2 separate regions of the Homo sapiens genome follow, and region 1 is linked to region 2. A link means that fine-mapping ties the variant in region 2 to the expression of a gene that starts in the linked region. Tissue or cell type: pituitary. Region 2 holds a variant in brackets; the other region holds the start of a gene. All regions are shown on one strand. Distances are from middle to middle.

The links. PIP is the estimated chance that this variant, and not a neighbour inherited with it, causes the effect.
Region 1: it holds the start of ZFAND2B, and the variant in region 2 is fine-mapped to the expression of ZFAND2B in pituitary (GTEx, PIP 0.98).

What each region holds. Positions count from the first base shown.
Region 1 is chr2:219,202,102-219,210,206 of GRCh38, forward strand. ZFAND2B (zinc finger AN1-type containing 2B) reads left to right here and starts at 4,681. Exons shown (of 9, transcript NM_138802.3): 1 at 4,681-4,941; 2 at 5,226-5,320; 3 at 5,547-5,678; 4 at 5,786-5,937; 5 at 6,155-6,247; 6 at 6,325-6,385; 7 at 6,471-6,538; 8 at 6,876-6,948; 9 at 7,161-7,547. The coding sequence starts at 4,887. The coding sequence ends at 7,205. It overlaps ABCB6 (ATP binding cassette subfamily B member 6 (LAN blood group)), which reads right to left. Exons shown (of 19, transcript NM_005689.4): 19 at 7,671-7,945. The coding sequence ends at 7,837. RefSeq lists enhancers at 4,273-4,522, 5,640-6,139 and a silencer at 4,573-4,972.
Region 2 is chr2:218,967,053-218,975,157 of GRCh38, forward strand. No RefSeq gene overlaps it. Among named protein-coding and RNA genes, the nearest start is that of LINC00608, 5.2 kb to the right of the region's middle. The variant A/G (reference allele first, on the strand shown) is at 3,715.

The sequences.
Region 1 (8,105 bases), 240 kb after region 2:
CAGCCGACTAATCTCCTAGGATCTGAAACCAGCTTCAATCAGCTTCCGCATCCTGGTACTTCACTTAAATATTTAAATACCTTGCACTGATAAGGTGTTTGATTTTTGATAACCCACGGAGAGATTTGGGATTTTCCCCAAACACTCTGAGAAAAATCATCACTTAAGATTCCTTTTTTTGACTTGGGCATGGTGGCTCACACCTGTAATCCTAACACTTTGGGAGGCAGAGGTGGGTGGATCATGAGGTCAGGAGTTCTAGACCAGCCTGGCCAACATGGTGAAACCCCATCTCTACTAAAAATTAGCCGGGTGTGGTGGCGGGCGCCTGTAGTCCCAGCTACTTGGGAGGCTGAGGCAGGAGAGTTGCTTGAACCCAGGAGGCAGAGGTTGCAGTGAGCTGAGATCATGCCACTGCACTCCAGCCTGGGCGACAGAGCGATACTCCATCTCAAAAAAAAAAAAAAAAGATTCCTCTTTTCAGTAGTTAAGGAGGGTCCAAGAGTAGATTTTTGGGAGGCAAATTTGTATGATGGAAAGAACATAGAACTGAAGACAATACAAAAATTTAGGTCCAGATTCTGACTTCGTAGCAAGTAATTTAATCTCTCTCAACTTCAGATTTTTTATCTGCAAAATGGGGATACATGATATCTTTTTCAAAAGATTTTCTTTCTTTTTTTTTTTTTTTTTTTGAGACAGAGTCTCACTCTGTTGCCCAAGCTGGAGTGCAGTGGCACAATCTCGGCTTACTGCAAGCTCCGCCTCCTGGGTTCACGCCATTCTCCTGCTTCAGCCTCCCGAGTAGCTGGGACCACAGGTGCCCGCCACCACGCCCAGCTAATTTTTTGTATTTTTAGTAGAGACAGGGTTTCACCGTGCTAGCCAGGATGGTCTCGATCTCCTGACCTTGTGATCTGCCCGCCTTGGCCTCCCAAAGTGCTGGGATTACAGGCGTGAGCCACCGTGCCCGGCCTACTTCAAAGGATTTTCACAGGGGATTAAATAAGCTAACACATGAGGAAGAGCAGGACACAACAATAAGTGCTAGTTTTTCTTTCCATTTCTTTTTTTTCCTGTTTCTTTATTAATTGAGACATAGTCTCGCTCTGTTGCCACCATGCCTGGCTGATTTTTGTATTTTTAGTAAAGACAGGGTTTCACCATGTTGGCCAGGGTGGTCTTGAACTCCTGGCTTCTGGTGATCTGCCCACCTCAGCCTCCCAAAGTGTTGGGATTATAGGCATGAGCCATCGTGCCTGGCCTTTTCCTTCCATTTCTATATGCACTGTTTCACTAAGAGTCAATTGAGAGGCGGAAAACCACTGAGACAAATACCATTAAACTAATATTCAAGTTGAATTGGAGCCAAGACACCTTTTCTGGCTATCCTCAGTTTGACCTTGTCTGCTTTAGACCTGCTAAAGCTAAAATAACTGGCGTCTGGCTATGACTATGCCTGCGAATTTTAGAGGAACCTATGTCTACTGTCCCAATGAGAGGCTGCAGCTCAGTTACCCACAGCTAAAGCGCAAGGCTGCTTAGCAGGTCTGTGTATGCTTTGTTGGTCTACAATAAAAGAGACTTAAGTAATGCTCAGTTGTTAATTGATATCTCCTAAAATAGCTAATTCAAGTTGCAAAATGTTATTTGATTTCTCTCTCAGTGTTCTCCTGGCTTCTTTTATTCAGGAAGCAAGGAGGCTACATTGGGGAATGGTGACTTTGGTTTGTGCGGGCACTCTTTTTAAATCGTGGGATGAGAACATCACCCAGTGAGAAAGCCCCTGGGCTGGTAATCAGCACAGAGAGCTTAGTCAGGACTATAACCCATCAGTCAGAAAAATATTTGCCTGGGAAGAGAGATACTACCGTGAGAGCTTCATTCACTTTTATCGTGGTCGCTGGGGTCTCTGAGGTAAGTCTGTTATGGCATGATATGGTCTGGATATGTGTCCCCTCCAAATCTCATGTTGAAATGTATTCCCGCCGGGCGCAGTGGCTCATGCCTGTAATTCCAGCACTTTGGGAGGCCGAGGCGGGCGGATCACGAGGTCAGGAGATCGAGACCATCCTGGCTAACACGGTGAAACCCCATCTCTCCTAAAAATACAAAAAATTAGCCGGGCGTGGTGGCATGCGCCTGTAATCCTAGCTACTTGGGAGGCTGAGGCAGGAGAATGGTATGAACCCGGGAGGCGGAGGTTGCAGTGAGCTGAGACTGTGCCACTGCACTCCAGCCTGGGCGACAGAGTGAGATTCTGTCTCAAAAAAGAAAAAAAAAAAAAAAAAAAGAAAAGAAAAAGAAATGTATTCCCAATGTCAGAGGTGGGACCTGGCAGGAGGTGATTGGAACCTGAGAGTGGACCCCTCATGAATGGCTTAGTGCCATCCTCTTGGTGATGAGTGAATTCTCACTCAGTTCACATCAGATCTGGTTTTGAAAAGACTCTGGGACCTCCCTCTTCTCTCTCTTGCTCCCACTCTTGCCATGTGACATGCCTGTTCCCCCTAGGCCTTCTGCAATGATTAGAAGCTTCCTGAGGCCTCACCAGAAGCTGAGCAGATGCTGGCACCATGCTTCCTATGCAGTCTGCAGAACCATGAATAAATTAAACCTCTTTCTTTATAAATCAACCAGCCTCAGATTTTTTTTTTTTTTTAAAGACAGGGTCTCACTTTGTTATCCAGCTGAAGCACAGTGGTACAATCATAGCTCACTGCAACTTCGAGCTCCTAGGCTCAAGCAATCCTCCCACCAAAGCCTCTCGAGTATTTGGGACAACGGGTGGATGCCACCATGCCCAGCTAACTTTTTAAAAATTTTTTTTGTAGAGAGGGAGGTCTTACTATGTTGCCCAGGCTGGTCTCAAACTCCTGGACTCGAGTGACCCTCCCACCTTGGCCTCCGAGGGATGGGATTACAGGCATGAGCCACCATGCCTAGCGAGGTATTTCTGTATAGCAACATAAGAACAAATGACTACATTTGCACTTCAAGCATTCTGGCTCATGCTCAAAAATGAGATCCGAAGATTTTTATTTTTTGAGTTCCACAAGGCTTTGGTTATCTGAGCATTTGTAAAGTGGGAGTGGGGAGAGAGGCAGTGTTTATCTTTGTTTAGTCTGCTCCATACACGTTTCTCCAAACTGAAAGCCTACAATTCTTTCTATTTTTGTAGAGACAGGGTCTCACTATGTTGCCCAGGCTGGAACTCCTAGGCTCAAGCGATCCTCCTGCGTCAGCCTCCCAAAGTGCTGAAATTACAAGCGTCAGCCACCATGCCGGGACTGGAAGCCTACAATTCTAAATTGTACTGATGAATATAGAGAGGAAAAAAAATGAATAAACAAAATTCTTAGAACCAAATGATTATAATGAGACTGGGAAAAAATTATTTGAAATCTGACAGTTATATATTGAAACAAAATAAAAGCATTTATAAAGTCCTGGATGCAATTTAAAATAAAAAGAATATTGGCTGGGAGTGGTGGCTCATGCCTGTAATCCCAGCACTTTGGGAGGCCGAGGCGGGCAGATCACGAGGTCAGGAGTTCGAGACCAGCCTGGGCAACATGGTGAAACGCCGTCTCTAAAAATACAAAAATTAGCTGGACGCAGTGGTGTGCACCTGTAGTCCCAACTACTTGGGAGGCTGAGGCAGGAGAATCGCTTGAACCCGGGAAGCAGAGGTTGCAGTGAGCCGAGATCATGCCACTGCACTCCAGCCTGGGTGACAAGAGTGACACTGTGTCTCAAAAAAAAAAAAATTATATTGGTCAGGTGTGGTGGCTCACGTCTGTAATCCCAGCACTTTGGGAGGCCAAGGCAGGAGGATCACTTAAGGCCAGGAGTTCGAGACCAATCTGGGCAACAAAGAGAGACCCCTCCCCAACCCCATTTCTACAAAATTAAAAATTAGCTGAGCACGGTGGCTTGTGCCTGTAGTCCTGGCTACATTCAATAATTACTAAGAATATTCTAGGCTAGGGTTTTTCAGAGTGTGGTGCATGGCAATCTGTGTCAGAATTCCTTCAGGTGCTTCCTACTGAATTAGAAGCTCCAGGGCCCGGAAATCCGCATTTTAAACTAGCTCCGTAGGCGATTTGGATTCACACTAAAGACTGAGGACCACACTGTTCTAGGCACTGTTAGGTGCTGGGACCTAACACGAAACAAGGTAGACGTGGTTCCTGATTTCCCAGTATGCTCATATAGGGGTTGGTCGCATTAGTGATATGGGTGCTAGAATGGAAGAAGTAAGATCACATAGCAGGTGCGCCTAGTTCAGACTGAGGAGGGATCTGCAGCTCTAGAGACGTCTGTACTTCAGAGAAATACAGGAGCTGTCAGCTCGTGGAGGCGAAGGGCAGCCGTGGCCGTGAACAAAATGGCCAGGAGGAGGGCATCGTGTGTGAAGCGGGCTAAGGACCGAATTGTGAAAGACCCCAAACCACCCAGCCTTCCATCCCCCAAGATATCCGTCTTTGCCTTCGCTGGCCTTCCTCTGCGGAGCTACGCCCGCGCCCAGGGTGGCGGAGCCGCGCATCAACACCCTCTCGCCTCGGGACAGTCTTCCGACTCAGCCTTCTAGAGCAAGGCGAGGCGGGGCGGGGCTCAACCGAGGCCCTCCCCGGCTGCCCGGAGACTGCGCCGGACGCGCCAGCCCTGCGGGATGACGTCAGCGCGCCGCGCGCGCCGAGGGAGGAGCGGGCGCCGGGGGCCGGCTGGCGCGGGGGCTCCGGTAACCCGGGCTGGGCGGGGGAGAGGAAGGGGCGGGGCAGGGAGCCCGCCAGAGTGCGGGGTCGCGGTGCGGACTTCGAGCACGAGCCCTAAAGACGCTCAGCACTCGTCGCTTCTCCTAGCAGACCCTGCCCGGCTTGGCGATGGAGTTTCCGGACCTCGGCGCTCACTGTTCGGAGCCGAGCTGTCAGCGCTTGGGTGAGGGGCGGAGCGCGCGGGGGGCGGGGCCCAGCGGACAGGGACTTTGAACCGCAGGTTGGGAGGGAAGGGTGGGCTCCCAGGCTGGCAATGCCGGGGGGCGGGGCTTGAAGCTGGGGGGGGGTGGTCAGCGGCAGAGGGGGCGTGGCCAAGGAGGTAATGGGCTTGGGAAGGGGCGGTGTGTCGAAAATAGGGTGGCGTTTTCCTTCCCGAGTGGAAGACTTGAGTGAGAGAGAAGGACATCGAGGTCCCGCTGGACCTGCAATCCGACCAACTCTTTGCAGATTTTCTGCCGCTTAAGTGTGATGCCTGCTCAGGCATCTTCTGCGCAGACCATGTGGCCTACGCCCAGCATCACTGTGGATCTGCTTACCAAAAGGTGAGGGGGCGATCCTCAGGGTGAAAGCAGGCAGATGGAGAATGCGTGCAGAATCCCCCAAATCTGTGTCTCACGTTTCTTCTCCCTTTTGTCCTTCTGAGGCTGTCAGTGCTGGGAAACACTGTTTTTTTGCGTGTTTGTGGTGGGTCATATCCAAGTTCTTTCAGGACCAGAGATTTGTTGGACTGGAGTGGGCCACAGACTGACCCTTGCTCCTTGACTACAGGATATCCAGGTACCTGTGTGCCCTCTCTGTAATGTGCCTGTGCCTGTGGCCAGAGGGGAGCCCCCTGACCGTGCTGTGGGAGAGCACATTGACAGAGACTGTCGCTCTGATCCAGCACAGCAAAAACGTAAGGTAAACATTGTAGGGGTCAGCCACAACCCAGCTGGGACTACGGATGCCTGGAAACCCAAACAGCTAATCAGAGTCTCAGCAGAGACAACCTTCTCACTTCACCTCAGATCTTCACCAATAAGTGTGAACGCGCTGGCTGCCGGCAGCGAGAAATGATGAAACTGACCTGTGAACGCTGTAGCCGAAACTTCTGCATCAAGCACCGGCATCCACTGGACCATGATTGCTCTGGGGAGGGGCACCCAACCAGCCGGGCAGGGTAATGGCAGCCAAGTCCTCCACTTGCTTTTGGGAAGCATTCTTTTGGAACTGACTCAAGCTCTGTTGTTATAAATTGGGGAGCTTCAACCCTACCCTGTCGGCTAGGGGAGTCTTTTAGCTTCCTTTTCAAGTGCATGTTTTTCCAGAACTCCCCTCCTGACTTCCTGGGTAAGGCTAGTTCTTGGAGACATGCCAAAAATCTCTCTTCCCTACAGACTTGCTGCCATCTCCAGAGCACAAGCTGTGGCTTCTACAAGCACTGTCCCCAGCCCAAGTCAAACCATGCCTTCCTGTACCTCTCCCAGCAGGTAGGCCTGCCCGTTTCCCTGCTCCCCCTTTTTCCCCTTCACACCTCTGACCTCCACCTCTTCAATGTCTGTCGTAGAGCCACAACCCGATCTCCGTCCTGGACAGCCCCTCCAGTGATTGCTTTGCAGAATGGCCTGGTGAGTTGGGCAGAGGTTGGATGGACAGAAACAAACACACAGAGAGTGAAGTCCAAGGACGCTGGTCTTCTTTCTCCCTTTGTAGAGTGAGGATGAAGCTCTGCAGCGGGCCCTGGAAATGTCCCTGGCAGAAACCAAACCCCAGGTTCCAAGGTACCTTACCCTCTTGTGAAAGAGAGCGCAAGCTGTGGGCAAGGGCTTGGTCTGGAGGCAGGTAGGTGGGACCACTCTGACACAATGCAAGATAATCGCTGGCAACTTGGTCTCAAAATTAAGATGAACTATATGATCTTTGACAAGTTATTTAACCCATGGAGCCTTCATTTCCTCTATAAAACGGGGACAATACTAATACCCACCTTGTAGTGTTGCTATGAAGATTGAGATAATCCTCAGCAGTGCTCAGCACCATGAGGCCCAACACACACAGATCAGATGTTCAAATTTCAGATCTTACCATCATCCAACTTAAACTGTTTCTCCCTCCCAGTTGTCAGGAGGAAGAAGACCTAGCTTTAGCACAAGCACTGTCAGCCAGTGAGGCAGAATACCAGCGGCAGCAGGTATGAGGCTGGGCTGAAGATATATGCTGCAGTGGAAGGGAGGAAGAAGTCAGGGATGGGGGTTCTTCCTAGTGGTGCAGAGTTTTGGAATGGTGGTTATCGTCTGGTTTTCAGTATGACTCCAGCCCATGCTGAGCTCTGAAATGAGGGCTGTCCCTCATTTCCTTGACGTTGCACTGTGTCTTCCCCTCCTTCCCCTCTCTTTGCTCTAGGCCCAGAGCCGCAGCTCGAAGCCGTCCAACTGCAGCCTGTGCTAGGGCCCTGGGCTTGGGGAGGGAGGTTCACCTGAGGAGGACTGTGGCCCTCACACCTCTAGGGTACACAGGGAGAGGAGGCCCGGAGCACCCTGGAGGGCAGAGACAAGCGGGAGTGATGTGGAGGTCGCCCTGGGAGCCTCTGGAAGGCCTTGCTAGTGCTCCAGCTGCATGGAAGAGAGCGGCTAGCAACTGTTCCCTGGTTGGGCCCTCAGTGGATGCTGGCCAGGCCCTACTCTTAGCCCCTTCATCATGTCATCTCCCTTATGCTGGAGCTGCCCCGATGTGGAGTGGGCAGGAAGGGGCCTGGAAAAAATAAAGGATCTTGGCAGTTGATAAAACGTACAAGTGGTGTGTTTCTCTCTCCTCTCTAACCTCAAACAGGAAAGCCGTGTCAAGAATGCTCATCTGACTTATGGGTAGAGGCCCGCTGCAGTACCCCATCCCACAAAGCCACAGTGATCCTCGCACAGTCCACATTTTTATTTCCCCAAAAGATGTTTTTCGGAAAGGTCCCTTTCCCTTACCATAGCTAGCACCATACCCCAAGACCAGGATGAAATAAGCCAGGGAAAGGAGACACATCTTATTCCCTTCTGGGTTAGTCTTTGAGAGGGAAGTGGCCAAACTTTTGTCACCGTTCCATGGTCTGAGGCTTAGTGTCTTCAGAGGTTTCTTCCTGTCCCTGCTGCAGCTGCCACATGTCAGCATACACCCCACCTCGGGACAACAGAGCCTCGTGTCTGGGGTGAGGAGAAAAGTGTGAGTCCTAACCATTAGTTTTACCCCGAGGGTCCTTGCCACCAGCCCACAGAGAGGACGGGATGGGAAGGGAGGTCCCCTCCAGAAGCCCCTGGGACTTCATGCCCCCTTTCCTGGAGCCCCCAATTCAGAAGACCTGTC
Region 2 (8,105 bases):
AGAAGGAGATTAAGTAAATTGTGATAAAGTGATATTCACTGGGATATTATGGACCATTAAAAATTATACATCAGGCCGGGCGTGGTGGCTCAAGCCTGTAATCCCAGCACTTTGGGAGGCCGAGGCAGGCGGATCACGAGGTCAGGAGATCAAGATCATCCTGGCCAACATGGTGAAACCCCATCTCTACTAAAATACAAAAAATTAGCCGGGAGTGGTGGTGCGTGCCTGTAGTCCCAGCTACTCGGGAGGCTGAGGCAGAGGAGTCGCTTGAACTTGGAAAGCGGAGGTTGCAGTGAGCCGAGATCACACCACTGCACTCCAGCCTGGCCACAGAGCAAGACTCCGTCTCAAAAAAAAAAAAAATTGTACATCAGTCTGGACACGGTGGCTCACACCTGCAATCCCAGCACTTTGGGAAGCCGAGGCAGGTGTATCACCTGAGCTCAGGAGTTTGAGACGAGCCTCATGGTGAAACTTCGTCTCTACTAAAAATACAAAAATTAGTTGAGCATGGTGGCTGTGCCTGTAGTCCCAGCTACTGGGGGGCTGAGGAGGGAGGATCACTTGAGCCCGGGAAGTGAAGGTTGCAGTGAGCTAAGATTGAGCCACACTACACTCCAGCCTGGGCAGCAGAGTGAGACTGTCTCAAAAAAAAAATTGTACATCAATATATATTTATCAACATGACAAAAATGGCACGATGAAATGGAAATAGGAGATTGAAAACATTGTCATATCATCCCATTTCTGAGAGAGAGAGAGATTTAAACAGCTGTCTCCTTCTTGTTATTTAGATCTCGACTTAATAGACTCCTCCTTCTCATCATCATCTCCTGAATTAATCTCAATCTGTCCCACAGTTACCCTCAATCACATGCCCCTAATTTATTTTCTTCATAGCATTTATCTTCCTGAAAATATATTATTATGACCTAAAAAAGAAGAGAATTATAAGGAAAGAAAGAAAAAGAGAAAAATAGAGAGGGAGCAAGAGAGAGAGAGAGAAAGAGAGAGAGAAGGAAGAGGGAAAGAGAAAGAGATAAGGAAGGAGGAACAGGAAAAAAAGTGACACTGGACAGTGTCTGGAAAAGGAGAAACACATTTCTGCAGCCATGTCCCCCACTCCCCTCTCACACATCTCCAAAGTCCCTTTGCTCCTTCCCCCAACCCCAAGCTGTTTCCAAATCCCTAGGGTTTAACAATGTCCCTTGCTGGATAAGGGGAGTTAAGCTCCTGTCCAGCCTGGCAGCCATGTCTATTACACACAAAGCACATATAAGGTGCATGCCCACACACAGAGCATGGACACACATATGTGCACACTCTTACAAGGATCCATCCAAGAGCATTTAAAAAGCACTTCTCTATCTTTTTCATAAGTGCCATAGAAGATCCACTGTCCTTTATTCAAATAATAAAGCTAGGGGAAATTTTTCTCTTCACATTAACTTGTTCATATCCTTTGAATAATGAGAATTAGCACAGTGCCTGGCATGAGGTAGGCTCTCAATAAATAAGAGCTGATGTTTATTCAGGTAATAGCCATTTTTTTATTATGATAAATGTTATGATAAGCATTTGTGTGTCACGTCTTTGCCCACTTACCTCCTTAGAACAAAGAATAAAAGAATAAATGGACTAAAAGGTGTGACAGTCTGCATGTTTACCTTTGGTTGCCAATAAGCATGCCACCAAATACACATTTTTAGAACACACCTATGGTAACTAACTTCTCCTAGATGTTTTATCTTTTCTTTTCTTTTTTTTTTTTTTTGAGATGGAGTCTCGCTCTGTCGCCCAGGCTGGAGTGCAGTAGCGCGATCTCGGCTTACTGCAAGCTCCGCCTCCTGGGTTCACACCATTCTCCTGCCTCAGCCTCCCGAGTAGCTGGGACTACAGGCGCCCGCCACCATGCCCGGCTAATTTTTTGTATTTTTTAGTAGAGACAGGGTTTCACCGTGTTAGCCAGGATGGTCTCAAACTCCTGACCTCAGGTGATCTGCCTGCCTCAGCCTCCCAAAATGCTGGGATTACAGGTGTGAGCCACCTCTCCCGGCCTCTCTTCTCTTTTCAATTGTTCTTGATTTGTGCTAGGTTTTTGGTTGGCTTTACTTTGCATTTTAAAACACTTTGAATTTTATCCTGGTGCTTTTATAGTGTCTTCATTTCATTCTTTAATCTATTTTGGAATTCAACTTTGTATGTGGCGAGAGGTAGAGATATAATTATTTTCCCCAAATGACTACTAAGTTGTGCCAATCGTTGAACAGTCTTCCTTTACCCCCAGTAAATACCATCTTATTATTTATGAAATTCCCACACATATGAATCTATTTCGAGGCTTTACTCTGTTCCATTAATCTGCTTAACTACTGCTGTTTCAAACCACTTCTTTAATAACTAGTTTTGCAGCATGCTCATTATTCTTTTGCTAAAATTGTCTTGTCTTTTTTTTTTTTTTTTTTTTTGAGATGGAGTCTCACTTTGTCACCCAGGCTGGAGTGCAGTGATGCAATCTTGGCTCACTGCAACTTCCACCTCCCGGGTACAAGTGATTGTCCTGCCTCAGCCTCCCGAGTACTGGAACTACAGGCATGCACCACTGTGCCTAGTTAATTTTTGTATTTTTAGTAAAGACAGGGTTTCACCATGTAGGCCAGTCTGGTCTCGAACTCCTGACCTCAAATGATCCACCCACCTCAGCCTCCCAAAAGCTGGGATTACAGGCATGAGCCACAGTACCTGGTCGTGTCTTGTCTATTCTTAATCACAGTACAGAAGAACTTGAGAACCAAGCCTGTCAATTTCCATAAAATCCCTTTGTGACTTGAATTGGGACTGCATCACTTTTATAGATCAATTTGGAGATATGTCAATTTTGCAATATTGAGTCATTCCACCCAGGAACGTGCTCAGTCTCTTCATTTACTCAGGTCTTCTTACTTCAGTTCCTTAGTGAATATTTATAGCTTTCTTTATTTAGATGTTTCTCATGTTTTCATTAGGTTGATCTGGGAGCATATTTGTATTGCTGTTGTAAGCTTGCAATTCTCAATTCCTTTTCTTCTTTTTACAGGGTTATAGGGGAGCCGTATTTTTTTTTTTTTTTTTTGGTATGTTGATCTTATACCTTACTGGAATTTTATTAGTTCTAACCGTGTTCTAGTTGAATCTCTTGGATTTTATAGGTAGGCAGTCATATCATCTGTAAACAAGGAAATTTTAGTATCTTCCCTCTCAATATTTACACACAGTGTATATCTTTTCCTGTCTTGTTGCATTGTCTAGGCTCTCCAGTACAGTGTTCAGTGGTAGTAGTGATGACAAAATTAAAAGGGATAAAAAAGACATCTTTCCTTTTCCCTTTTATAAGAATACTTCTCATATTTTACCAATGGCTTTTTAAATTTGTCTTTTAAATTTGAATATCTTCTTTTATGTACATTTTAATATGGTAAGTCATGTAAAATCATTTTCTGGAAGTTGATACAATTTTAATCAAAATAATTATTCAAATTACCTGTCCTGTATAGAGCACCAACGGAGCCATGCTGGACTACATGGTCCTGAGCATGTGCAGTTTGGGGATATAGGAGTGGGAGGTGGCTGAATGTTCCCCTGGGGGTCCTTTCTCCTCCCTGACATTTAAAGTTAGTGTGATGTGATGCACGGAACAAAAGACTATGAGTCAGAGGTTTGAGTCTCTCCTCT[A/G]CCATATATTAGCTACTAATCGAAGACAGCAATTCAATCTCTTTGAATTTCAGTTTTCTCATCTATCAGATCGGAATAAGATCTTGGGTTAGTGTCTATCAGGTGCCTATGATAGGAATGACATATTACTGTTGTTAGGGTAAGAACTATTGCTATAGTAGTCAGCACTATTAATAACTATTAACAGGGACTAAACAATGACCAGGACAGGGACAGAGTCCAGAATGGGGCCCTGGGGTGCTCTAACCAGCTTTGCTGGCCCCTGAGATAGTGGGGAGCCCTGAAGGCCTGGGCCTCCCATGAGCTATCCTGTGACCTGGATGACTGTGTTTACTCCTTGCTGCCAGGCCTTGGTCCCAGTGTGACCCACGTGCCTCTCTTTAGAATGCCAGCCAGAGGACTTGCTTCTGCTGTCAGTATGTAGATACTTTTGCCAGCCTGGCCTAACATAGCAACATTCTTGAGTCTAGGTCTTTGGGCCAGCAGGCCAGGCCCCTTTTGGGACTTCCCACTCCAGGGATCCCCCCAGGCTGGTTGGAACCAACAGGGAAGAACAGCTGAGTCCTTCCTTCACAATTCCCCTGCTGATCAGGGGTGAGAGGAGATGCATCTTGGGACACTAGGCCCTAAGAATGGCATGCACACACGTTGCTAATGACTGCACTAATGTCCATGCATCAGGGTATAGTAGAACTATCCTGAGATTTGCAGCAAATCTGGACTCTGCTATTTCCTCACTGTGGGAACTTGGGACTTTGTTTTCCTCATCTGTTATATAGGAATCATGATCATCTTCCCACTACATATATATATATATATATAATATTGATATATTTTATATATAGAATATTGATATATTATATATAGAATATTGATATATTATATATAGAATATTGATATATTATATATAGAATATTGATATATATTATTATATACAATAATGTATGACGTTAATATGTTATATACAATAATGTATGACGTTAATATGTTATATACAATAATGTATGACGTTAATATGTTATATACAATAATGTATGACGTTAATATGTTATATACAATAATGTATGACGTTAATATGTTATATACAATAATGTATGACGTTAATATGTTATATACAATAATGTATGACGTTAATATGTTATATACAATAATGTATGACGTTAATATGTTATATACAATAATGTATGACGTTAATATGTTATATACAATAATGTATGACGGTAATATGTTATATACAATAATGTATGACGTTAATGTTATATACAATAATGTATGACGTTAATATGTTATATACAATAATGTATGATGTTAATATGTTATATACAATAATGTATGTTAATATGTTATATACAATAATGTATAATGTTAATATGTTATATACAATAATGTATAATGTTAATATGTTATATACAATAATGTATAATATTAATATGTTATATATAATAATGTATAATATATAAGAATATATATTATATATATTTTTTGAGATGGAGTCTTGCTCTGTTATTCAGGCTGGAGTGCAGTGGCATGATCTGGGCTCACTGCAACCTCCGCCTCCCGGGTTCAAGCGATTCCCCTGCCTCAGCCTCCCAAGTAACTGGAATTACAGGCACCCGCCACCATGCCCAGCTAATTTTTGTATTTTTAGTAGAGACAGGGTTTCGCCATGTTGGCCAGGCTAGTCTCGAACTTCTGACCTCAGGTTATCTGCCCACCTTGGTCCCCCAAAGTGCTGGGATTATAGGCATGAGCCATATGCCTTGCCTTTTCCCATGATTAATGAGGCTGCTGCAAGTATCATTTGAAATTGTGTCTATGATGTGATCTGTAAGTTGTAAAGCATATAATAAATACAAGGTGGTCCTGAGTCTGGCCCTCATGTTCATGGTCATAGACATGGCCATTGCACAAATGTGTGTGCAAGATGCCCTAGAACTGTGTGTCAAAAGTAGAAAACCAGGGGGAAAGGTTGGGGGATTGGGAAGGTGATCATAGGAAAGGAGGCTGACTCCAAGAGGTTATCATCGGAGCCTGGGATCTTTTGTCACTTTTCCCATCCATCTCCCTATCTTGTGTTGCTCCAGATCTCTCCATACTGCAGGATAAAAACGGACAGTGCTGCCTGAAGCCTCCCTGACAACCTCCTGCTGTGTTGCTAAGCAACTTGACCTCCTCTTCCAAAAAAGGAACCTAATGCTCAAGGTCTGGCCTTCCAGCCTCCTTTAGTTACTTCCTTCTTCTCTGACCTCAAGGAAGGAAGGAATCTCAAGGAAAGAGCATCTCTGCCTCATGGAGGGAGAACTGGGTGTAGAATTGGAGGATTAGACTGGTGGGAAATGGGATGAACTTGCAAGGCGGGTCTTTGCTTCTGGGCTGATCAGTGTGGGGGATGACAGTTATAGAGCAGCTTTCTGTGCTGGACTCTCTAGGCACAGGCTCTGTCCTTGCAGCAAACCAACAAGGCAGGTATGATCAGTGTTGCCATTTTATGAGGTCACTGAGCCTCACAGAGAGTAAGCAGCCTTCTCAGTCTCACAGGGAATAGGCAGTGGATGAGTCTGAAGCCACGCCCTTCTGGGTTCCTTCTACTCCACCATGCTGTTCGAGATATTTGCAAGGGTCACTGTAGACCACAAGACTTCTAAAATGCATTTCTCACTTTGCTATTTGTCTGGAACCCCTGGTGAATGCTGGAATAGAGCACCTGGCTTGAGGTTGAGCTGGGGTTTGGGCATATAGTTCTGCTACTTCCTTGGCCTCTCAGAATCTCAGAATCTGCTCATTCTTCCAGTAGTGAAGATCAGAGAATAAGGGGTGGGGATAGAGTGAAAACTGGGCTGGCCGGGCTTGAAATGCATCTCTACCACTTGGCAGCTCTGCGATCCCATGCAAGTTATTTAACATTTTGTGCCTCAGTTTTCCTAATTTATAGAATGGGAATAACACTAGAGCCAACTCCAGAGGGTTGTAAGAATTAAATGAATGTAAAGCTCTTTGAATAGTGCCTGGCACATAAAGGTTCAATAAGTATCAGCCCTTATTATTATTACTTCTAGGAGGCTTGAGCATATAAACCTCTTTCACATCCTTAGTGGTTAAGAGAATTCACTGCCACTGAAATCAAACTAGGTCCGCATCCTGCACTGCCCTTTCTCACTGTGTGACTTTAGACGAGTTTCTTAATCCCTCTGTGGCTCAGTTTTCTAATCTATAAAGTGAAGAAAATAATAATGTGTACTTCAGGGTATTATTGTAAAGATCAAATATAATATGGGTATCAGTTATGGTAATGTTAGTTGCTGTAACAAGAAAACTTCCCACTTCCAAATTTCATGTAATAGTCTACATAGAATCATGGGAAGTAAGCATTACTATTATCTACATTTTAGAGGAGAAAACTAAGTGTCAGAATGGTGTAGACATATTCCTAAAGTCACATAGCTAGTAGCTAGCTGAGATCTTACAATTTGAAATTCAATACATTCTTTTGTTACTTCATAAAGAAACGGAGGATGTTCTGAGTATAGGAGGCCAACTCATGTGATAGTGGTTGCGGAGCCATAGCCAGTCAAGAGGCTTGTTCTTGGTGAAGTTCACCATGTGGGCCCAGGACAAGGACTGGGCTGGCGTGGAAAAGTAAGCCCAGGTTCCTTTCCAGGGCATGTGGAGGGCATCTGATGGGGATGAGAGGGAGAGGAGGCAGGTGCTTGCTTTGTTTTGGATTGTTTTGTCTGCTTGTTTAATAGAAAGCACTGATATATGTAGCAAGGTACTTAAATCGTTATTTAATCTTTATAGCAACTCTATGAGGTAGGTTAAATGGATATTATCATTTTACAGATGAGGTAATTGAAGCACAAAGAAGTAAAGTAACTTGAATAACGTCACATAGCTTGCAAGTGTCAGAGCTTTTAAACCCTGGAAGTCCAGCCCAAACCTCCAAACCACTAAGCTATGTTGTCTTTTGTTTTCAAAGAAGGGTATGCTAGGAAAGAAACAGCAAACAGGATCCAGTGGGAGAGAATTCTCAGAAACAGAAAAAGTTAGCTGGGGCCAGGCACAGTGGCTCATGCCTGTAATCCCAGCAATTTGGGAGGTCAAGGTGGGAGGATCATTTGAGTTCAGGAGTTCAAGACAAGCCTGGCCGACATGGTGAAAACCCATCTCTACTAAAAATACAAAAATTAGCTGGGCGTGGTGATGGGTGCCTGTAATCCCAGCTACATGGGAGGCTGAGGCAGGAGAATCACTTGAACCCAGGAGGTGGAAGTTGCTGAGAGCCAAGATTGCACTAGCCTGGACGACAGAGCAAGGCTCTGTCTCAAAAAAAAAAAAAAAAGAAAGAAAGAAAGAAATATTCATCCAGGCACAGTGTCTCATGCCTGTAATCC